4 separate regions of the Homo sapiens genome follow, and all the other regions are linked to region 1. The links come from fine-mapping of genetic effects on gene expression. A gene starts in region 1. Each other region holds a variant in brackets. All regions are shown on one strand. Distances are from middle to middle.

What was found.
Region 2: its variant is fine-mapped to the expression of SLC7A5 in whole blood (TOPMed, PIP above 0.99).
Region 3: its variant is fine-mapped to the expression of SLC7A5 in whole blood (TOPMed, PIP above 0.99).
Region 4: its variant is fine-mapped to the expression of SLC7A5 in whole blood (TOPMed, PIP above 0.99).

The regions. Positions count from the first base shown.
Region 1 is chr16:87,866,377-87,872,100 of GRCh38, reverse strand. It overlaps SLC7A5 (solute carrier family 7 member 5), which reads left to right and starts at 2,594. Exons shown (of 10, transcript NM_003486.7): 1 at 2,594-3,216. The coding sequence starts at 2,679. RefSeq lists a cis regulatory region at 231-557, enhancers at 519-1,280, 637-1,836, 1,281-2,040, 5,646-5,695 and a silencer at 2,281-2,630.
Region 2 is chr16:87,834,757-87,840,480 of GRCh38, reverse strand. SLC7A5 (solute carrier family 7 member 5) reads left to right here. Exons shown (of 10, transcript NM_003486.7): 4 at 8-52; 5 at 656-779; 6 at 1,664-1,767; 7 at 2,540-2,636; 8 at 3,834-3,983. SLC7A5-AS1 (SLC7A5 antisense RNA 1) reads right to left here and starts at 4,216. Exons shown (of 2, transcript XR_007065175.1): 1 at 3,679-4,216; 2 at 2,794-3,068. RefSeq lists an enhancer at 2,605-3,804 and a silencer at 5,584-5,724. The variant C/T (reference allele first, on the strand shown) is at 2,886.
Region 3 is chr16:87,778,978-87,784,701 of GRCh38, reverse strand. LOC102724467 (a long non-coding RNA gene) reads left to right here and starts at 5,554. Exons shown (of 4, transcript NR_120309.1): 1 at 5,554-5,724. RefSeq lists enhancers at 3,849-3,948, 4,019-4,078, 4,104-4,969, 5,100-5,189, 5,520-5,619 and 1 more. The variant A/G (reference allele first, on the strand shown) is at 3,713.
Region 4 is chr16:87,890,323-87,896,046 of GRCh38, reverse strand. It overlaps CA5A (carbonic anhydrase 5A), which reads left to right. Exons shown (of 7, transcript NM_001739.2): 6 at 4,093-4,248. Among named protein-coding and RNA genes, the nearest start is that of SLC7A5, 24 kb to the right of the region's middle. The variant C/G (reference allele first, on the strand shown) is at 2,957.

The sequences.
Region 1 (5,724 bases):
AAATTAGCCGAGCATGGTGGCGGGTGCCTGTAATCCCAGCTACTCCGGAGGCTGAGGCAGGAGAATTGCTTGAACCCGGGAGGCGGAGGTTGCAGTGAGTTGAGACTGTGCCACTGCACTCCAGCCTGGGTGACAGAGTGAGACTCCGTTTCAAAAAAAAAAAAAAGAAAAGAAAGTATTCTCCCAACCAGCTCAAGCGAGAGTGCCACAACTTTTTTTTCTTTTCTTTCTTTCTTTTTTTTAACCTCTGAAAATACACAACATGTGATAAATTACTGACTGGAGCTGAAAAGACCATTGTCCTGCCTCTGTAAAAATCAAAACGCTGCCGAATCTTTCCAACAGATGGCACTCTTTGCTAAGATTCTAGAGTCATAGCTTTCAGGCGAAGGCGTTTCAGGGCCGGCATCAGGGACGTCTGAGAGGAGTAGATTTGCTGGATAAATCTAGAATGTTGTCATATGAAAACCCAGTAAAAACCGACAGAGGTGGCGTAATAGCTGTGTGACTTGAACACGCTCATGGCTGTTGTCACCCTTCCTGCTTAAGGGCTCCAGCACTTGCCAGGAGCCTGGCTCTGGGGGCACCAACCATGACTTGCACCAACTGTGCAGGGCCCCCTCTGTGCCGGTGGGGACCCCTGCACCTCCCTTATTAATTCTCACTCACCCTGGGCTCTCAGCTCCAGGTACCACCTCAGAAAAGTCTATCTGGACCTGCCTGGTCCCTGTCGCTGTCGCTGGCTCACCCTGTCATGTCCTTGGCTTATCATGGTTGTAATTTTATGCTTTGGGGTATGACTGTTGGTTGCCTTTCTTGTTACTCAAAGAAGAATGGTGGAATGATTAAAAGTACCATATAAGTTCAGAGTCAAAAGGACAGCTCCCAGGCTACTTGCTGGCCGGACAAGCGAGGTAACCCTACCAAGCCTCAGCTTCCTTATTTGCAAAATGGCTCTAACTGGCACCTACCCTATTGCATAAGAAGCTGTCTAGGGGAGGACTCAGTGAGCACTCGGTGAGTTTGCCCAGCCATGGTGGTACTGTCTCCTTCCCTCTGCAGGCACAGCGGGAAGAATAGGGCAGATGGAGGGGTCTCTGCACCTTCCACAGCCAGCAATGTGGACGGCAGATTACAAGTTAGTATCTGTGTGACCTCCGCACTCCCCCGCCTGTGGCTGCCTGGGCTGCTGAGATTTCGCTCGGTTTTATCACCGCAGAGGAATGCCCGACATACCGGGGGGCGAGCAAGGTCCAGAATGACAAGCCCTGGCATTCCTCAGCCGCCCCCTCCCTGGGGTGGGGCCTGGACATTCCTGGCTGCAGCTAGAGGTCCCAGCACGACAGGGATTCTGACCCCCCTCCACCACGGCTATTGTTCAGAATTCTGTGGATTCCAGAGGCATCTGCCCAGCAGACTGTCTTGCTGTGAACACCCAGCTCTGCAACCGGTGTTTGCGTGTTTGCCCTGGGAGGCTGAACGCTCACCCAGAACAAAGGCCTCCCCACATGCCTGCTGTGAGCTTCCAAGGACTCGTTTGCACACACGCCAAGGAACCCCGGGGTGGGGTGATACTGAGGAGCTTCCTCCCTGACCCACACACACCCTTTGAACAGGTCTTTGGCCGCTCACCAGTCTGGTCAATCTCGGGGCAGTATTTATATTCCTTCCCATTTCCAGGCCTAGGAGCCTTGGCATCCTGCTCTCGCCTCTAACTGAAATTACCTCTCAACCCTTTTTAGCTAAGATGCCTCTCGCATTCCCTAGGAATAACAAGCTTTAAAGCCCCTTCACACTGAAGCCTGCCTTTGAATTCCCCAGGTAGATTTGGGGGTGGGGGTCTTATGGCTCCCAGCGAACCCCCGGTTCTGTTGATTAAATTGAGCTCAGGCAGATTGCTGGCTTCCCAAAGCCTGTGTTATTACTGCTTCTCAAAGCTACGGGCACCGGATCGCCGTCTTTGGCAAGATTCTTTTGGGATACAATGGGAATTACTGGGTGGCCTCGGTTCGGTTCTTCCCTCGTCCCAGTTCGCGGCTCACCAGCCCCACTGATGCAGCCCCCAGGCTGGAAGGAGGCTGCAGGAGCTTCCCCTCAGGTCATCCTCTCATCCCTCCCCCGTGCCCCAGGAGCTGGTTGTGGGGGCGGTTCCATCCCCTCGGCCCATCCGGGACAGGAGCCTAGGTTCCCTTCGGGGGGTACCCCAAACTCCATCCTTGGCCTCAGGCCAGCCCTGGTGCACTGCCCGCTCCCAGGCTTGACGAGAGGCTGCGGGCCAGTGGGTGAAGGGGCGCGCCCTGACTGCCAGGCCCCGCCCAGGCGCATCCGGGAGGACGGGCTGGGATGACGCGGGCGCCGGGAGGGGGGAGGTCGCGAGGCCGGGGTCTCCATGGCGCAGGAGGACTGGGGCCTTCGAGGACCACGCGGGCCTGGGAATAGCCCGCCAGGCTGGGCCGGACGACGCACGTGCTCCGAGCTGGGCCGAGGGGGCGGGGCTGAGGGACGGGGCCGGGCCACGGGGCGGGGAGGAGCCGCGGACGGTGGGCGGGGCCGGCGGGCCGGGGCCTAAAAGGCGGCGCGGGCGGGGTTCCTGACGCAGCTGCGGGCGGCGGGCGGCGCGCACACTGCTCGCTGGGCCGCGGCTCCCGGGTGTCCCAGGCCCGGCCGGTGCGCAGAGCATGGCGGGTGCGGGCCCGAAGCGGCGCGCGCTAGCGGCGCCGGCGGCCGAGGAGAAGGAAGAGGCGCGGGAGAAGATGCTGGCCGCCAAGAGCGCGGACGGCTCGGCGCCGGCAGGCGAGGGCGAGGGCGTGACCCTGCAGCGGAACATCACGCTGCTCAACGGCGTGGCCATCATCGTGGGGACCATTATCGGCTCGGGCATCTTCGTGACGCCCACGGGCGTGCTCAAGGAGGCAGGCTCGCCGGGGCTGGCGCTGGTGGTGTGGGCCGCGTGCGGCGTCTTCTCCATCGTGGGCGCGCTCTGCTACGCGGAGCTCGGCACCACCATCTCCAAATCGGGCGGCGACTACGCCTACATGCTGGAGGTCTACGGCTCGCTGCCCGCCTTCCTCAAGCTCTGGATCGAGCTGCTCATCATCCGGCCTTCATCGCAGTACATCGTGGCCCTGGTCTTCGCCACCTACCTGCTCAAGCCGCTCTTCCCCACCTGCCCGGTGCCCGAGGAGGCAGCCAAGCTCGTGGCCTGCCTCTGCGTGCGTGAGTACGGGGCGCGGGCCGGGGGTTGGGAGGTCGTAGTCTCTGGGTCCCTGCATCCTTGCATCACTACGCCCCTGGCTCCCACATCTCTACATCTTTACGTTCCTGGACCATCCCGGCAGTTCTAGGCTAAGGTCATTGGTCCCAGAAACCACGTGCGTTTCTTTCATTCATTCTTTTACACTTCTCCCCACAGGCTGGGAATATCTTCAGTGACGGGACAGCAGGGTCCCTGCCCTGCCCTTCGGTGGGCATTCCATTCCCCCACTTAAGCGGTTTAGGCAAGTGCCACCCTCCCGTTGGCCCCGCTGAGCAATACTCCCAGCCTCTTGCGTGGCACCCACGTGGAGTAACTGAGCAATCGGTTTACTGTTAGAGCTCCGATTGCTGACTGGTTGGTGAGAAGGAAATTGCAGTTAAAAAAAAAATCATTCATTTCTGCTCTCCACACCAGCTCGTCAGGAATCAGTGACACGGGCTGACTCATAAGAAAACAGTAGTAATAACATCGTGTGCGGGTAGTGACTGGTGCTGATTTAGGCTAAGGGATCCCCCCTGAGGGTTCCCAGTAGTGAGAGAGCGGAGCTTGGCTGCAGATTCAGTCTGTGTTGCAGTGAATGGACGTGCGGGTCCCAGGTTTCTCTGGGAAACAGCCATGGGGCTCCTGTTTTGGTGGGCATGGTGCTGGTGTGTTCTTCACCAGGCCAGAGATAACTGCTTTTCAAAATAGTTTTCTTTTTCTTTTTCTTTCTTTTTTTTTTTTTTTTTTGACACTGAGTCCCGCTCAGTCGCCCAGGCTGGAGTACAGTGGCACGATCTCGGCTCACCGCAAGCCCGCCTCCCAGGTTCATGCCATTCTCCTGGCTCAGCCTCCCGAGTAGCTGGGACTACAGGTGCCCGCCACTACGCCCGGGTAATTTTTTTTGTATTTTTAGTAGAGACGGCGTTTCACCGTGTTAGCCAGGATGGTCTCGATCTCCTGACCTTGTGATCCGCCCGCCTCGGCCTCCCAAAGTGCTGGGATTACAGGCGTGAGCCACCGTGCCCGGCCTCAAAATAGTTTTCTTGTGGGATTTCAGGGGGAAAATCACTTGTAGCAGATGCCACATGATTTGGTTGGGTGGCGTGGGAAGGTGGGTCTTGGCAATTCTCAGATTCATCCCATGGCATGGATCGGCCTGCATCTCAATAGTGTGTGTACACATTCAAGGTGGGAAGGGCTAATTTATAGTTGGGGTCTTGAGCCATGAAATCAGGGGAGTGGCTTCTGACTGGCAGGACCTGTTGGCGCTGTTTTCTGCCACACCGTACTTTGGGGGGGAGGGGGAGGGGGAGGCATTTCTTCATAAATGTGAGAATGCCCCGAGGGCAAGACTCAGCAGGGCTCTGTGTGGTTTCTCTGAGGCTCTGAGTCGAGCAGCCGCACCACCATGCAGGTCAAAGCCGGGAAAAATCGTAGCAGGACAGCAGTGGGGAGAGCCTGTGCCTTCCAGCTGGGCGTTGGAGATGTGAATGTAGGGGATGACTCTGATTTCTTTTTTTGTCATTAGAATTTCACTGGTTCAGTCTCCCTCCCGCCTAGGTACATGTCGGCCCGGTATGTAACGACATGGATAGTAGCTTACGCAGCCTGCACTCTTATCTTTAAAAAATGAACCCCTGGTTGGCTGGGTGTGATGGCCCACGCCTATAATCCCAGCACTTTGGGAGGCCGAGACGGGCGGATCTACCGAGGTCAGGAGTTCGAGACCAGCCTGACCAACATGGTGAAACCCCATCTCTACTAAAAATACAAAAATTAGCCGGGCAGAGTGGCTCACGCCTGTAATCCCAGCTGCTTATGAGTCTGAGGCATGCTCCGGGATGTGGAGGTTGCAGTGAGTTGAGATCCCGCCACTGCACTCCAGTCTGGGTGACAGAGCAAGCCTGTCTCAAAAAAAAAAAAGCAGCCCCTGGGTGCTGAGTCTCTGACTTCCTGCTGGTGCCAGGAGTGAGTCGTGGGAAATGCTTCATTGGCCACCAGGAAGGAGACGTAGGATGGGGCGCTGCCTAGTTTTCTCTTTCTAATAAAAATCACATCAGTCATACATGAATTCATCATCATTTAAAAATTCAAACCAGCCAGGCACTGTGGCTCACACCTGTAATCCCAGCACTTGGGAGGCCGAGGCAGGCGGATCACCTGAAGTCAGGAGTTCGAGACCAGCCTGGCCAACATGGTGAAACCCCATCTCTACTAAAAATACAAAAAATTAGCTGGGTGTGGTGGCAGATGCCTGTAATCCCAGCTACTCGGGAGGCTGAGGCAGGAGAATCACTAGAACCCAGGAGGTGGAGGTTGCAGTGAGCTGAGATCGCACCACTGCACTCCAGCCTGGGCAACAAGGCGAAACTCCATCTCAAAAAAAAAGCAAAAATCAGCTGGGCGTCATGGCGCACACCTGTAGTCCCAGCTACTCGGAGGCTGAGGCAGGAGAACTGCTTGAACCAAGCATGGTGCCACTGAGC
Region 2 (5,724 bases), 32 kb after region 1:
ATTTTAGGAATTACTTGAATTTCGTCACAGAGGAAATGATCAACCCCTACAGGTACGTGCAAGAATGGATGGAGCCGTCTTTTTTCATTATTTTAATGTGAGGCAGGAAGCAGCCACATTCCACTCGAAGCCTGTTGGTCGGCTCAGGCCAGTTCACAGTCGGGCCGTGATTGGGGCCTCTGGGGCCAGCAGGATGTGGGGCGGGTGGCTTCTGGCCGTGTGTCCTTGAGCACGGTTTCTCCAGAGAACGGGTGGCAAGTGAGGGCCCCACTCAGGGCGGGACGGTACAGAGGAGCTGCCTGGGCTCTCGGCTCTGGTCCCCGGCTGTGCAGCTCGTGGGCAGAGCCTTAGAATTCAGACCAGGTGGCCTGACTTAACTCTCCTGAGCCCTTGAGGTCACCCCGAAGAATCCCCATTTCTCAGGTGGGGAAGCTGAGGCCGCGGCCAAGGCACCAGCCAGGGCTGTGCAGTGTCCCGCTCCAGGCACAGCCTCCTGCCGCCAGCCTGTGTTCTCTTGCTGCTTCCCACCTTCCCCGAGAAGCCCAGCACAGAGGCTGGAGCTACTGCTTGCGAGGAGCCCACCTGGCTCCTGGGCACAGGGTTTGGCCTTCAGCCCGGGCTGCGTTGGGTGACATGTCGTCCCTGTTCTTTCCAGAAACCTGCCCCTGGCCATCATCATCTCCCTGCCCATCGTGACGCTGGTGTACGTGCTGACCAACCTGGCCTACTTCACCACCCTGTCCACCGAGCAGATGCTGTCGTCCGAGGCCGTGGCCGTGGTGAGCCGCTACCCGCCAGCTTCCACCAGGGGCCTGAGAGGCTGTGGCCAGCCCGTCCCTTCCAGACCGGAGTGGTGCCCCACATCTCTAAGCCTCCCCTACGCAGAGGGGGCCCCGCGTCTCTAAGCCTCCCCTACCCGGAGGGGTGGAGTGGTGGTCTCCCCTCACAGCGACCGCAGAGGAAGTGTCTGGGGATCATCCTCAAGCTCAGCTGCTGGGGGAGTCAAAGGGGAGAAGGGTTTAAAATCTGATACCAAGCCACACCCAGAACCAGCTATAAGCCAGAATGCCTGGGGAGTCCAGGGCAGAGGTCATTTTAAATCTGAGTACAGAAAGATTGGAGTCTGCCACAGAGTGGGGTTCGTTAGAAGGCACGGCTGCTGCTGGCTTGGCAGGCGGGAGGCCAGGCCCGGGCGGTGTCACCGGGCAGCTCAGCCAGGCTGGCCTCGCAGTTCCCGAGGCTTCTCCCACTGCCCTCCCAGGGCTGGGGGAACAGGGAGTGGGTGCTCTGGCCAGCTTCCTACTGAACAAGCTCTGACTCCCAGCCCGCTGCCGGCAGGGCACCGTGCTGAGCCTGTGGAGGACCCCACGGGGGAAGGCAAGATCCCCACCTGCAGGCCGTAGCTTGCTCCAGGGAGTCCCAGAGGAGGGGGCAAATCAGGACCAGCAAGGGCTCCCCAACAAGCAGGCTGGGCAGGGGTCACTGGAAAGCCCTGTCCTGGGAAGTCCCCCCAGAGGCCAGAATCCAGCCTGAGAGGTCCTCTGCAGAGGGCTCTTGTGAGCACAGAGGGCGAGGGCTGGCCCGGTGCAGAGGGCTCCCAGTGAGCACAGGGAGGGCGAGGGCCGGCCCGGTGGGGCCCAGCTCACTGGTTGTGCCTGCCTAGGACTTCGGGAACTATCACCTGGGCGTCATGTCCTGGATCATCCCCGTCTTCGTGGGCCTGTCCTGCTTCGGCTCCGTCAATGGGTCCCTGTTCACATCCTCCAGGTGAGCACAGCCCGACCCACCACAGGTGAGGGAGGCCCAGGCCTCATGGCCAGGTTCAACATGTTCCATGTCTGTAAAAGGTTTGTCTCTGTGATACTGGGGATGCATAATTGCTCAAATAGGCCAGGCATGGTGGCTCATACCTGTAATCCCAGCACTTTAGGAGGCCGAGGTGAGCAGATCGCTTGAGCTCAGGAGTTCGAGACCAGCCTGAGCAATATGGCAAAACCCCGTTTCTACAAAAATATACAAAAATTAGCCAGGCGTGGTGGCACGTGCCCGTAGTCCCAGCTACTTGGGGGGCTGAGGTCGAAGGATTGCTTGAGACCAGAAGATTGAGACTGCAGTGAGCCGAGATGGTGCCACTGCACTCCAGCCTGGGTGACAAAGTGAGACCATCTCAAAAAAAAAAAAAAAAAAAAGGCAGCAGCAAGCCCAAATAATACAGAAATAAAGGAAGCATGAACTTTGGCCCTCGCCTCCCCACTCCTGCCTGGAGGTGACACAGCTGTGGTGTCCTAGATGCCCTGTGGCCGCCGCTTGACCCCCCGGGCTGGAGTGAGCAGTGGCTCCCAAGTTGCTGTCCTTGCCGAGTTGGTTGGGGGAACTGAGAGGCCCACAGCCAGCGGCTGGAGGGGCCTGGTTCCCACTGTGGCCAGAGAGGCCCAGACAAGCCAGGCACAGGCCCTGCCACTCCCCAGCCTGCGTGTCCCCTGTCCACGTGCTGAGTTGTGGGGCGGTGGCTGACTCTGCCACTCTTGTCTGTCCACAGGCTCTTCTTCGTGGGGTCCCGGGAAGGCCACCTGCCCTCCATCCTCTCCATGATCCACCCACAGCTCCTCACCCCCGTGCCGTCCCTCGTGTTCACGGTAAGCCTGCTGCACGGCCCTGTGCCCTACATCCCTGGGGGTTGTCCGGGGGCTCCCAGAGGGAGGCTGCCACAGCTTGCAGCTCTGTCTGGGGTGTGGACTGGGTGACAGCTCAAATGTGGCCTCCTGCCGAGCTCCGCTGAATGCCAGAGAGCGCTGGAGGGGCTTTAGATTTTATTCCAAAAATAATATATGGTGGCTGCCACAAACGATTCAGACCATCGGAAATGCGGGAGGCAGAAGCTGACC[C/T]GGGGTGCTGCTCTGCCAGCCGCCTGGCTCACTGCACCTCCGTGGGCGCCCACTCTGTTCGTTTCTCAGCGGGGTGCATCACACACAGTTTCCTTCCGCTTCTCCTGCATCTTTCCGTGCCAGCCCGCGTGACTGCCTTTGTTCCCTCTGGCTGTGTCACACATCACTCCAAAATGTAGTGTTCTAAAAGGAAAAGCACTTATTATCTCACAGTTTCCGTAAGTCAGGAATTCAGGGAGCTGGTGCCTGAAGCTGTGTTCTCATCGTAGGGTGTGACCAGGGCTGGAGAGGCCACTCCACAGTGGCTTCCTCCAGGGCTGTGGGCTGCAGGCCCCACCCCTGAGCACACTGGGCTCCCCCAACAGGCTGCTTCCCCCAAAGCCAGTGAGATACAGCAGAGGAAGCTGGGGTCTGGCAGCTGTGGGCTGGCCTCAGAGGTCCTGGCCCTTGCTTACTACTCCTTCCCTGAGTTAGAAGCCAGTCAGGAAGGGCAGCAAGTCCTGGACTCTTTGGCAGCTGCACGGTCCTCGGGAGCACGGCTGTGCCGGGGGTTACAGAAACTGTTTTCTTGGTGACCACTGGGTTAGGTCAGGTTGTGGCCCTCGCACACAGAGCCACAGTCCAGCAGAGCCCAGCTGTGTATGTACACTGTGTTCTTCACCTGTCCTTAACCCAAATGTGGTCTCCATTTCCTCCTCTCCTCCCTCCTTCCCTCCTCTCCTCCCTCCTTCCCTCCTCCCCGCCTCTTCCCTCCTCCTCTCCTCCCTCCTTCCCTCCTTTCCTCCTTCAAGACCTTGCATGTTGCTCAGATGAGGTTTCTCCTTTAAAACAAAATTCCCTGGTGCTCAGCTGGGCCCAGCCAGGCTGGACAGTCCCCGGTGGCCACCACGGCCGTCCACAGCCCTGCTCGTGGGCCCCAGGGCTCAGCCAGCCGCCTCTCTCTTCCAGTGTGTGATGACGCTGCTCTACGCCTTCTCCAAGGACATCTTCTCCGTCATCAACTTCTTCAGCTTCTTCAACTGGCTCTGCGTGGCCCTGGCCATCATCGGCATGATCTGGCTGCGCCACAGAAAGCCTGAGCTTGAGCGGCCCATCAAGGTGAGCCCGGGGCCTCCCGCTCACCCAGGCACCCTTCACAGAGGCAGGGTCCGTGGGTCCTAAGGACCCTGAGTTGGGAGCCAGCATCCCAGCTCAGCCTCTGGACCTGCCCCTGCCTGCATGCACCTGGGTCGACTAATTCCGGTGATGACTTGACCACCAGCTACGAGGGTGCCAAGTGTGACTGCAGGAGCCGGGGTTCCTCAAAGGACAGCAGATGGCACAGAGCTTGTGCTCCGTTGGGTGGAGGGAAGCAGATAAGGACACTGCAGTCATAGGTGGGCGGTGGTGAGCCCCGGCAGGGGCGGGGCAGAGCCGGGCCTGGCGCAGCATTCAAAGGGCCGTCGGGGCTGTGCTGGCAGGAGGAATGCAGGGAACCCGGCCCGAGGAGCGCCTGGGCCCAGCTGGACTCTCCTGGACTCTCCCCGTCCCCAGCGGCTCATTCAGAGGGGTAGCTGTTATCCGTGGGCTGCCTTCTCCAAAAACGGGGCCGTCCAGCAGAGGCCATGCTCTTGCCTGGGGCCCAGCAAGTCCCGCCGCCCTGGCCCTGACACAGAACAAGAGGCCAGAGCCCCTGGTGGCTGCTAGCCAGCAGCTTTTGTCACTCAGCTGGCCTATGGCTGTCACAGTAGCCCCTGCTTCCCTGCCCGGACCATCTCTCCCTCTGTGTTCCCGAAGCCTGGGGGCCCCGGGGGTGCCTGTGAATGCTGTTGAACGGGCTTTAGGCTGGGCGCGGTGGCTCACGCCTGTAATCCCAGCACTTTGGGAGGCCGAGGCGGGCAGATCACAAAGTCAGGAGATAGAGACCATCCTGGCTAACACGGTGAAACCCCGTCTCTACTAAAAATACAAAAAAATTAGCTGGGCGTGGTGGCGGGCGCCTATAGTTGCAGCTACTCGGGAGGTGGAGGCAGGAGAATGGCATGAACCTGGGAGGCCGAGGTCGCGCCACTGTACTCCAGCCTGGACGACAGAGTGAGACTCCGTCTCAAACAAACAAAAAAAACAGGGGCTTTAAAATACAGTCAGCACAAGAACCCAGATGCTGCCCCAAGAGAAGGCTGCAGAGGGCAGGGAGGAGCCGCCCTACATGGGCACCAGCTTGTGCCTGCTGTGCCAGCCTGGGGCAGTGCCTAGGGCACAGGGCAGTCACTGCGCACAGCGGGGGCTCAGCCCCCATGGGGACCTGGGCATGGGGTAGGCTCTACCCACTGTTGTGAGCCTGGGCACGGGTTGGCGTCTGTTCCCTGGGGACAGGGCAGTCATGCAGCCCACACTGATGGGCTGGGACCTGTGGTCAGCCCTGCATCTCCCAGGGTGCCCTGTCCAAGTATGGATTCAGGACAGCTGAGTCAATCCCCCAGCCATGCCGAGCCGCAGGTTGCGGCCTGCAGGCTCCTTGCAGCCCTGCCTGGCTTCTGTGCCGGGTGGAGCTCATCTGCTGAAGGTGACAGTTTAGGCTGCAGCTTCAGGGATGGGCTTTTGCTCAGCGCTGTCCACAGCGGCGTCTCCAAGAGGGTGGTCTCCTGGCTTATTAGTGGGTGGCCACTGTCTCCTGGAAGCATCAGGCCCCTGTGCGTCCTGGCGGCTCAGGGTTTCCAGGCCTGTGATGTGGGAATGGAGCCGTGACCTTCCCTGCCCGTGGGAGGCCTCGGGAGACGAAGCTGTCTCCTTCCATCCCTCATCATAAGCCGCCTGAGCCCCTGGCAACATGCCCAGCACTGTATGCAGAGTCGAGGGC
Region 3 (5,724 bases), 87 kb after region 1:
AACCAATTAATTTTTTTTTTTTGAGATGGAGTCTCGCTCTGTCGCCCAGGCTGGAGTGCAGTGGCGCGATCTTGGCTCACTGCAAGCTCTGCCTCCCGGGTTCAAGCCATTCTCCTGCCTCAGCCTCCCGAGTAGCTGGGACTACAGGCGCCCGCCACCACGCCCGGCTAATTTTTTGTATTTTTAGTAGAGACGGGGTTTCATCACGTTAGCCAGGATGGTCTCAATCTCCTGACCTCATGATCCACCCGCCTCGGCCTCCCAAAGTGCTGGGATTACAGGCTTAAGCCACCGCGCCCGGCCATGTAACCAATTAAATTTTTAACTTTTTGCCAGTTCTGCTTCTGTAAAAATTGCTTCAGCTAAAATCCTGCCTCCGCTGTTTAGACCACGGTATAAAAACAAAACTAGTCCCTTCCTCAGGGCTGAGAGAATTTTGAGCATTAGCTGCCTCTTGGTCGCTGGCTAATAAAAGACTCTTTAATTTGTCTCAAAGTGTGGCGTTTCTCTGTAACTCGCTTGGTCACAACACGACGATGGGAGGCGTGTTGGATTCTGAGTCCTGGGAGTTTGTTGTGGGTTGGCTTTATTTTGTGTATTCTTATCTGTGGATGTTTTCGGTTGGCTTGAGTGGAACCCCGTCATCCTTGCACAGTTGGATGGGCAAGCGCCTCGGGAAGGTCTCCCTTTCATTTTCTGGGTAAAGAACTCACTTTGTCGGCATCTGGATGCCACGTGGCCTGAGTCTCCTGTGACCTCTGTGCCGGTGCTTTGGCTGTGGGGGGTTGGGAGAGGCTGGAGGGTGGGTGGCACTGAACCAGCCTGGCCTGGGCACTCTGGGAGTGTGCACTTCACAGTGAGGGGTCACAGGCACAGAAGGAGCGAAGGGATGGGACTCCCAAAGAGGCTTCAATCCCCATGACTACCAAGACTCTTTTTTTTTCTGTGACGGAGTCTCGCTCTGTTGCCCAGGCTGGAGTGCAGTAGCGTAATCTCGGCTCACTGCAACCTCCCTTCCTGGGTTCAAGTGATTCTCCGGCCTCAGCCTCCCGAGTAGCTGGGATTACAGGCACGCACCACCATGCCCAGCAAATTTTTGTATTTCTGGGAGAGACAGGGTTTCACCATGTTGTCCAGGCTGGTCTCAAACTCCTGACCTCAAGTAATCCGCCTGCCTTGACTTCCCAAAGTGCTGGGATTACAGGGGTGAGCCACTGCGCCCGGCCTTTGACTACCAAGGCTCTAGATGGTTCCCATCCAGAGAACTTGGCATCTGCACATATCAGCAACGGGCGATACTGCAGCAAGACCTGCGGTTTATCCTAAGTAGTAAACGGCTGATATTTAGAATCTCGTGAGCAAATCAACTGCAGAGACAAGGGACCCATGGGGGTAAAGGGAGGGGAAGGCCAGAGTCAGGTCCATGGGGAGAGCACCAAAGGCAGCTCCCACTTCTTCAGCTTGTGAAAGGAAAATAAATCTTGGAAATCTTGTGGCCCTCAAATCACTAAGCTAAAGGGAAAAGTCAATCTGGGAGCTGCTTAAGGCAAAACTGCCTCCCATTCTATTCAGTCACACCTCTGCTCACTGAGATACATACATATCTGATGGCGTCCTTTGGAAAGGCTAATCAGAAATTTCAAAAGAATGCAACGGTTTGTCTCTCCCCGACCTGCCACCTGGAAGCCCCCCTCCCTGCTTGAGTTGTCCTGCCTCTTTGTACGGAACCAATGTACATCTTACATATATTGATTGATGTCTCCATGTCTCCCTAAAACGTGTAAAACCAAACCGTGCCCCAGCCACCTTGGGTACATGTCCTCAGGACCCCCTGAGGCTGTGTTACCGGTGGACGGTGTCCAGGTTCTTGGCATCTTGGTGTTGTCCAACAAATAATTGCACAAAATGCACAAACAAAGCAAAAAGAGTGAGGCAGCAAAAGCAGAGAGTTATTGAAAACGAAAGTACAAGGCCGGGCGCGGTGGCTCACACCTGTGATCCCAGGATTTTGGGAGGCCGAGGTGGGCGGATCACAAGGTCAGGAGATCAAGACCATCCTGGCCAACACGGTAAAACCTCGTCTCTACTAAAAAATACAAAAAATTAGCCAGGCGTTGTGGCGGGCACCTATAGTCCCAGCTACTCGGGAGGCTGAGGCAGGAGAATGGCGTGAACCTGGGAGGCGGAGCTTGCAGTGAGCTGAGATCACGCCATTGCACTCCAGCCTGGGCGACAGAGCGAGACTCCACCTCAAAAAAAAAAAAAAAAAAGAAAACGAGAAAGTACATTCCACAAGGTAGGAGTGGGCCCCAGCATAGGGGCTCAAGAAACTGGTTACAGAATTTTCTGGGATTTAAATACCCTCTAGAGGTTTCCATTGGTTGCTTGGTGTATGCCCTTTGTGAATGAAGAGGCTAAAGTGAAGTTACAAAGTCATTTACTTGGTGTACGCCCTGTGTAAATGAAGAGGATGAAGTAAAGTTACAAAGTCACTTACTCATTTGTCAATGAAATCATTTACGCTTCATTTACACAGATGCCCTATGTAAGTAAAGAGGATATTTCCTGTCATAGCTGAAGTGTTTCTATTTTATTTATTTATTTATTTTTGAGATGGAGTCTCTCCCTGTCATCCAGGCTGGTGTGCAGTGGCACGTTCTCAGCTCACTGCAACCTCCGCCTCCCAGGTTCAAGTGATTCTCCTGCCTCAGCCTCCTGAGTTGCTGGCATTACAGGCACCCACCACTACACCCAGCTAATTTTTGTATTTTTAGTAGTGACGGGGTTTCACCATGTTGTCCAGGCTGGTCTTGAACTCCTGACCTCAGGTGATCTGCCCGCCTGGCCTCCCAGAGTTCTGGGATTACAGGCGTGAGCCACTGTACCAAGCCCTTACATTTGATTTAGTCCTAGGCAGTCTCTCGGTTCCCTTCTTCCAGGATCTATTCTCCTGACTCAGCTGTGTCACAGTGCCTGTCTTTGACCTGGCAAAATAAGCTTTCTTCATTGATTGAGACCTGTCTCAGATTTTTGGGGTTCACAGGCTCCCAGGGCATTTAGGGTGCCACTGAGCACCACGACTCGGTGCGTTTCCTCCCAGCAGCAGGAGGCCACACACCTGGAGCTACACAGGGTGAGATGGGTTAGGGTCTAAAATCTCTGCATTGAAGAGTGAACCACATCTAAATGCAATGTTGTCTCCTGCGTAGGATCCTGGATGGGAACAGGAAAAGGATGTAAGTAGGAAAAGACCCAGGGAAATCCAAAGCAAGTCTGGGGTTTAGTTAATGGCAATATACCAATGTTGGTTGCTTAGTTTTGACCAATGTACCATTGTATGGAAGATGATCACTGGAGAACTTCAGGAACTATCTTAGCTGTCCTGCAAAGCTACGATTATCCCAAAAGAAAAAAATTATCAAAACAAGTAAATGAGGCTGGGCGCGGTGGCTCACACCTGTAATCTCAGCAGTTTGGGGGGCTGAGGCGGGTGGATCACTTGAGGTCAGGAGTTCAAGACTAGCCTGACCAACATGGTGAAACCCCGTCTCTACTAAAAATATAAAAATTAGCCAGGCATGGTAGTTCAGGCCTGTAATCCCAGCTACTCAGGAGGATGAGGCAGGAGAATCGCTTGAATCTGAGAGACAGAAGTTGCAGTGAGCCAAGATCGTGCCACTGCACTCCAGCCTGGGCGACAGAGTGAGACTCC[A/G]TCTCAAAAAAAAAAAAAAAAAAAAAGGAAGTGAATAAAAAGCCACAGGAAATAGCTCCCGAAGGCTGAGCCTGTGGGGAGAGGGTGAAGGACTTGTGGGCAGAGGGAGGAAGGCGTGGGTGGAGGGAGGAAGGCAGACACAGGAAAGCTAGACTGGGTGCTCCACTGAGGGACATGTGTGGTTCTCTTTGCAGGAAGCAGAGCTCAGCTCTTGCCCTCTCACATCCTTTGAAGATGACCACCTTGAAGATTAGGATGAAAAGCAAACCCTCGGCTCCTGGCCTGAGCTCTTGGCAATCATGTCTCTCACCAGGCAGGAAGCAAAAGAAGATTGTTTCTGCACTCATTTGTTTTCAGAACAGTGGAGCAAACAGTCATTTACTGGTCTCCATAGACACTGAAGAGACACCAGGTGGCGGTGACTCTGCGGGTTGCAAATGTCCCCAGCGTCAGATTCATATTATTTCCCCTGACCCCCTCTGTCCTCTGTGGATGAGGAGAGCTGGGCAGAACACCTTGGTGGGGTCTCAGGGCTCCAGCGGTGACCACTGCTGGGTCGGACCAGCAAATGGAAAGGAGCCCACGTGTGCTCTCTGTGGCCCGGGCGGTAAAGAGGAGGTGGATCCCGGGGCTGTGGGTGAGAGCAGTGGGAATACCAGGTACTATTTCTTCCCTCCATTAATCCTCCCAAAAGATTGCTATGTCTGCACCAAAGTCCCTGCTTAAAACTTTGGAACAAGAATGTAGCTTCAACGGCCAGGCGTGGTGGTTCATGCCTGTAATCCCAATGCTTTGGGAGGCCAAGGCAGGCGGATCACCTGAGGTCTGGAGTTTGAGACCAGCCTGGCCAACATGGAGAAACCCTGTCTCAGGCCGGGCACGGTGGCTCACGCCTGTAATCCCAACACTTTGGGAGGCCGAGGCGGGTGGATCACCTGAGGTCGGGAGTTTGAGGCTAGCCTGACCAACGTGGAGAAACCCCATCTCTACTAAAAATACAAAAAAATCAGCCAGATATGGTGGTGCATGCCTGTAGTCCCAGCTACTCGGGAGGCTGAGGCAGGAGAATCACTCGAACCCAGGAGGCAGAGGTTGTGGTGAGCCAAGATCATGCCATTGCACTCCAGCCTGGGCAACAAGAGTGAAACTGCGTCTCCAAAAAAAAAAAAAAAAAGAAAAAAGAAACCCTGTCTGTACTAAAAATACAAAATTAGCAGGGTGTGGTGGCGCATGCCTGTAATCCCAGCTACTTGGGAGGCTGAGGCAGGAGAATTGCTTGAACTTGGGAAGCAGAGGTTGCGGTGAGCCGAGGTCGTGGCATTGCATTCCAGCCTGGGCAACAAGAGTGAGACTCCCTCTCAAAAAAAAAAAAAAAAAAAGGAATGTAGCTTCTTGTACATTATTGACCTGGGGGTAGGGGTGAATTTGGGATTTCGGGACATTGCTTCAGAGGGCATCCTGACTCCCTCTCGGCCAGGTGAGACCTGGTGGCAGGGCCCCAGCGGCTGCCTGGGGACCAACCACCCGGCTGAGTGCCGGAGCAGCCAGCTCTGACGTCCGCGACCAGAAAGGACGCCAGATGCTTCTGTTGACGTTGACAAAGGGCTTTGCCAGGAGGCTCAGGCCCGCCTGCGGGCTGGTCCCCATCCTTCCTCTTAGACCCCGCGAGGGTGATGCAACCTTCGCATACTGCGGTTGCGAGGCTCCAAGGCCGCCTTCTGCGCGGGAGGAGTGACCCCTGGCGGCCGACGCAGACATTGCGGGCTTGGTGCTTGGACTCAACTTCTGAGCTGTGTTGCATCAGCCAACGGGCCCTAAGGAAGCTGAATAATGCCTCAGGCTTCCTGCCACCCTGCAGGCCGGGAAGTTGGCAGGTGTGGCGGGTGGGGTGAGGGGTCCGAGTCCCATGGCCTAGGACGTTCATTTCTCCGAGGCTCGGTCTCTCCTCTGGTGGGACCATGTCTCGAAGAGCCCCTGGCTTGGCTTCTGGAGCTGGCGGCCAGGTAGGAGCC
Region 4 (5,724 bases), 24 kb before region 1:
GATGTGTGGCAGGCAGGAGGAGACGGACGTCTCACTGCACACCCGCCTGTTACCCACGTGCACCAGACTGATGTCTCACTGCACACCCGCCTGTTACCCACATGCACAAGCAGTCTGCTCCTTCACAGCCCAGCTAGAGCGTGCAATGGGATGTCAACCCAGCTAGACCATGCAGTGAGATATTACTTGGCAATCAGAAAGGACACAGCTCTAACTCATGCTGCGGTGTGGGTGAGCCTCAAAAGCGCCGTGCTGAGTGAGAGACACAAGACACAAATGTTCCACATGTTACATGACTCAGTTCCTATGAAACCCACAGAGACAGAAGCAGCAGGGCGGGGGTGGGGACCATAGCTAAAAAGTACCAAGCTTCCCCCTTGAGGTGGAAGTTCTAAAATTGACTTGGGATGGCTGCACAACTGTGAATATACCCAAAACCATAGAACTGTACCCTTCAATTTTTATTTACTTTTTTTGTTTTTTGTTTTTTGTTTTCTTTTTGAGATGGAGTTTCACTCTTGTTGCCCAGGCTGGAGTGCAATGGCATGAGCTCAGCTCACTGCAACCTCTGCCTCCCGGGTTTAAGTGATTCTCCTGCCTCAGCCTCCCGAGTAGCTGGGATTACAGGCATGCGCCACCACGCCTGGCTAATTTTGTATTTTTAGTAGAGACATGGTTTCGCCATGTTGGTCAGGCTGGTCTCGAACTCCTGACCTCAGGTGATCCATCCGCCTCGGCCTCCCAAAGTGCTGGGATTACAGGCGTGAGCCACCGTGCCCAGCCTATTTACTTATTTTAAGAAAGGATCTCACTCCGTCACCGAGGCTAGAGTGCAGTGGTATGATCACAGCTCACTGCAGCCTCAACCTCCGGGGCTCAAGCCATCCTCCCACCTCAGCCTCCCAACTACCTGGGACCACAGGCGTGCACCACTGCACCTGGCTAGTTTTTGTATTTTTTGTAGAGTCAGGGTCTCGTTATGTTGCTTAGGCTGGTCTCAAACTCCTGGCCTCAAGCAGTCCTCCCACATCGGCCTCCCAAAGTGCTGGGATTACAGACATGATCCATTGCGCCCAACCAGGCTGTACACTTTAGATGGGAGAGTTGCATGGTATGTGAATTCTATCACAATAATGCTGTGGGTTTTGCTGCTGCTGCTGTTGTTTGAGACAGAGTCTCTCTCTCTGTTGCCCAGGCTGGAGTGCAATGGTGCCATCTCGGCTCACTGCAACCTCTGCATCCTGTGCCAAAGCAGTTCCTGTGTCTCAGTCTCCCGAGCAGCTGCGATGACAGGCACCTGCCACCATGCCTGGCTAATTTTTGTATTTTTAGTAGAGATGGGGTTTCGCCATGTTGGTCAGGCTGGTCTTGAACTCCTGACTTCAGGTGATCTGCCTGCCTTGGCCTCCCAAAATGCTGCGATTACAGGCATGAGCCACTGTGCCCAGCCTATAATGCTGTTTTTTTTTTTTTAATTAACTGGATAATTATAAACGTGAACATGCGTGCATAGAACTGATGCATGTGTCTGCCAGTGTGGACACTCCCGGGCTTCCTTCTGGTAGCTCAGCCACCTCTCTTGACCCTGACCCTCACTGCTTGATGTTAGGAGACAAGCCCAAGGCATCTGGGTTGCCAGCTTCCACCTTGGAAGGCCAGGGCCCAGCAAAGTCAAGGTGATGTGATGTGGCTGAGCAGGGAGGCCATCTTCCTTGCAGACAGGGACTCTGTCACTTTGGACTGGACTCTTGTCCCACAGTGCTGGCCAGGGGCAGGTGCAGAGCTATGCTTGGTTGGCATGGGACGCTGATGAGGGCTGTGTTGCGGCCAGGCCCAACCACCGTGAGCTGAGATCATGCCACGGCACTCCAGCCTGGAAGACAGAGTGAGACTCTGCCTCAAAAAAAATAAAAAAAATAAAAAGTTATAAATAGAACTACCCTATGATTCAGCAATCACACACTTCTGGGTATATATCCAAAAGAGCTGGCTGGGCACAGTGGCTTATGCCTGTAATCCCAATATTTTGAGAAGCCAAGGCAGGAGGATCGCTTGAGCCCAGGAGTTGGAGAACAGCTTGGGCAAGATGGCAAGACCCCCTGGCTACAAACAATTAATTTTAAACCCTGGTGTGGTGTCCTAGCTACTTGGGAAACTGAGGCGGGGGGATCGCTTGAGCCCAGGAATTAGAGCCTGCAGTGAGCTATGATGGCATCATTGCACTCCTGCCTGGGTGACAAAGTAAGACCCTGACTCTTTTTGTTTTTTGGCTGTGAGTGTATTCAATGCAAAATAATCCTCTCTGATTTTACTGAGGTAGCTGGCCATGTCCACGACCAAATCTGCCTTTAAACTGGAATTCGGTTGCTGACCCAGCCCGAGCCTCGGCTATCTTGTCGGCACCAGGGGCACAGCACTCCGTCTGTAGGTATGTCTGTCAGCTTCCCCTCTTGTGAGTCTTGCAGGTCGCCCACCCTCCAGACCTTTAGGCCGAGGCCTGCCAGTCCCTGGACGGCTGCAGCATAGGGTGGCAGGCACAGTTTCCAGGGACAGATGAAGGTAATCACGGAGATACTGGATGCCCTCATTGGTAAGGTAGCAGTAGAAATGTCTCCAGGCAAGCCGGGCGTGGTGGCTCACGCCTGTAATCCCAACACTTTGGGAGGCCGAGGTGGGCAGATCACGAGGTCAGGAGATCGAGACCATCCTGACTAATATGGTGAAACCCCGTCTCTACTAAAAATATAAAAAATTAGCTGGTCGCGATGGCGTGAAGATGTAGTCCCAGCTACTAGGGAGGCTGAGGCAGGAGGATCGCTGGAACCCAGGAAGCAGAGGCTGCAGTGAGCTGAGATCGCACCACTGCACTCCAGCCTGGAGACTCTGTCTGAAAAAAAAAAGAAAGAAAGAAAGAAAGAAAGGAAGAAAGAAAGAAATGTCTCTAGGCAAACTGTTC[C/G]TTCAGGCAGCCTCGGGGCTTGAGAGACTGCATGGCCTTCGTGACATGAAGGTTGGGCACATTCTTGTCTGCCATCTCCGGGTGCTTAGGCATGTGGACATCCTTCTTGGCCACCATGACTCCCTCCTTAAAAAGGAGCCCATAGGCCGGGCACAGTGGCTCACCCCAGCACTTTGGGAGGCCAAGGCGGGTGGATCATCCGAGGTCAGGAGTTCAAGACCAGCCTGGCTAACATGGTGAGACCCTGTCTCTACTAAAAATACAAAAATTAGCTGGGCGTGGTGGCAGGCGCTGGAGGCTGAGGCAGGAGAATCGCTTGAACCTGGGAGGCAGAGGTTGCGGTGAGCCAAGATCACACCATTGCACTCCAGCCTGGGCAACAAGAGCAAAACTCCATCTCGAAAAAAAAAAAAAAAAGGTTAAGATGGTAAATTTTATGTTATGTATATTTTATCACAATAAAAAGTAATATTTTTTGCAGCCAAGGTATGCTAAAAGAAATGGCTTTATTTTTATTTTTATTATTAATTAATTTATTATTATTATTATTATTATTATTATTATTATTATTATTATTATTTGAGACAGAGTCTCACTCTGTTGCCCAGGCTGGAGTGCAGTGGCATGATCTCGGCTCACTGCAACCTCTGCCTCCTGGGCTCAAGCGATTCTCCTGCCTCAGCCTCCTGAGTAGCTGGGACTACAGGCGCCCACCACCACATCTGGATAATTTTTGTATTTTTAGTAGAGACAGGGTTTCACCACGTTGACCAGGCTGGTCTCGAACTCCTGACCTCAAGTGATGCACCCGCCTCGGCCTCCCAAAGTGCTGAGATTACAGGGGTGAGCTACTGCGCCCCAAGAAATGACTTCAAAAGGAAAAATGTGAGCACCAACGTAAGCTGGTGTAATGTAACGTAATTCCCACCAATGTAAGTTGGCAGGAATCCTTGCTCTGTATAGAAGGGTCACATTTTCTCATCACTGCTTGCAAGTGTGACAGCAGTGGCCTCATGGCCTTATCTGGGGGAAAGCACTTCCTTCCAAGCACCATGAAGGCCTCACGTGCTGAGACAAGATGGAAGCTCCTAGTCTCCCCTGAGGACTGACACGTCCTGTGCTTCTCGGTCTCTCAGGACGCGCGGGCGGCCATGCGCCCCTTCGACCCCTCCACTCTGCTGCCCACCTGCTGGGATTACTGGACCTACGCGGGCTCGCTCACCACCCCGCCGCTGACCGAGTCGGTCACCTGGATCATCCAGAAGGAGCCCGTTGAAGTGGCCCCAAGCCAGGTGAGCCGTGCCCGTAACTGGCACGATGGCGCTTCATGGAAGGCGTCCCTCTTGCTTGGCAGCGTCACTAAGATGCTGCATGAGAGCGTTGTGGAGTTATATATATTCTTTCATGCATTTGGGGCATTCTTACACAAGAAGAAAATTCCAACTGAAGTAGGAGCTTGTTGAGATTGGACAGCGGTTCCAGTGATCACAGCAAGCATGTCCTGAGCAACGCCCTAATCTATCACACACAGACACACGAGGCATCCATGGGAGTTGTCCCAGGGTCATGGGTCTGCATGGTTTTTGTTTTCTTCCTTTTTCTTTTCTTTCCTTTTTTTTTTTTGAGACAGAGTCTCGTTCTATCGCCCAGGCTGGAGTGCAGTGGTGCGATCTCGGCTCACTACAACCTCCACCTCCTGGGTTCAAGCGATTCTCCTGCCTCAGCCTCCCAAATAGCTGGGATTACAGGCACCCATCACCACGCCTGGCTAATTTTTGTATTTTTAGTAGAGACGGAGTTTCACCATGTTGGCCAGGCTGGTCTTGAACTCTTGACCTCAGGTGATCTGCCCACCTTGGCCTCCCAAAGCGCTGGGATTCCAGGCATAAGCCACCGAGCCCGGCCTCCTTTTTCTTATCTAAATAGTTTCATTGCTTTTTTTTTTTTCGAAAATTAATTAATAATATTTGTATACACTTTTTAAAGTTATACTCTTGGGCTGGGCGTCATGGCTCATGCCCATAATTTTAGGACTTAAAGAGGCCAAGGCAGCCAGATCACTTGAGGCCAGGAGTTCGAGACCAGCCTGACCAACATGGTGAAACCCCGTCTCTACTAAATCTACAAAATTAGCCAGGCGTGGTGGTGCATGCCTGTAATATCAGCTACTTGGGAGGCTGGGGCAAGAGAATAACTTGAAGCCGGGAGGCAGAGGCTGCAGTGAGCTGAGATCACGCCACTGCACTCCAGCCTGGACAACAAGAGCAAAACTCCATCTCAAATAAATAAATAAATAAAAATACAAAAATTAGCCAGGCATGGTGGCGTTTGCCTGTAATCCCAGCTACTTGGGAGGCTGAGGTAGGAGAATCACTTGAACCTGGAAGGCGGAGGTTGCAGTGAGCTGAGATGGCACCACTGCACTCCAACCTGGGTGACAGAGTGACACTCTGCCTCAAAAAAATAAAATAAAAAATAAATAAAAGTTATACTATCATTTTTTTCTGGAAATCTTAAGAATCTGTAGCAATTCTGTCTGTCCAAGGCAGTTCAGAGCCACAGACGTGCTGCCTATGCCCCGCCCCCGCCCGGCAGACGTTTCTCAGCAGTCGCAGCGCGACTTAGCATCTCTGGCTCATCTCTTTCCGAGGGCTCCAGGTGAGCTCTTAGAGGGTCTTTCAGTCTCCCGGGCCTGTGAAAATATTCCCTTATATACAAACGGGGAAGGCTTTTGTTGAAGGTGGCCCCTTGTCAGCAAGGCCCTTATG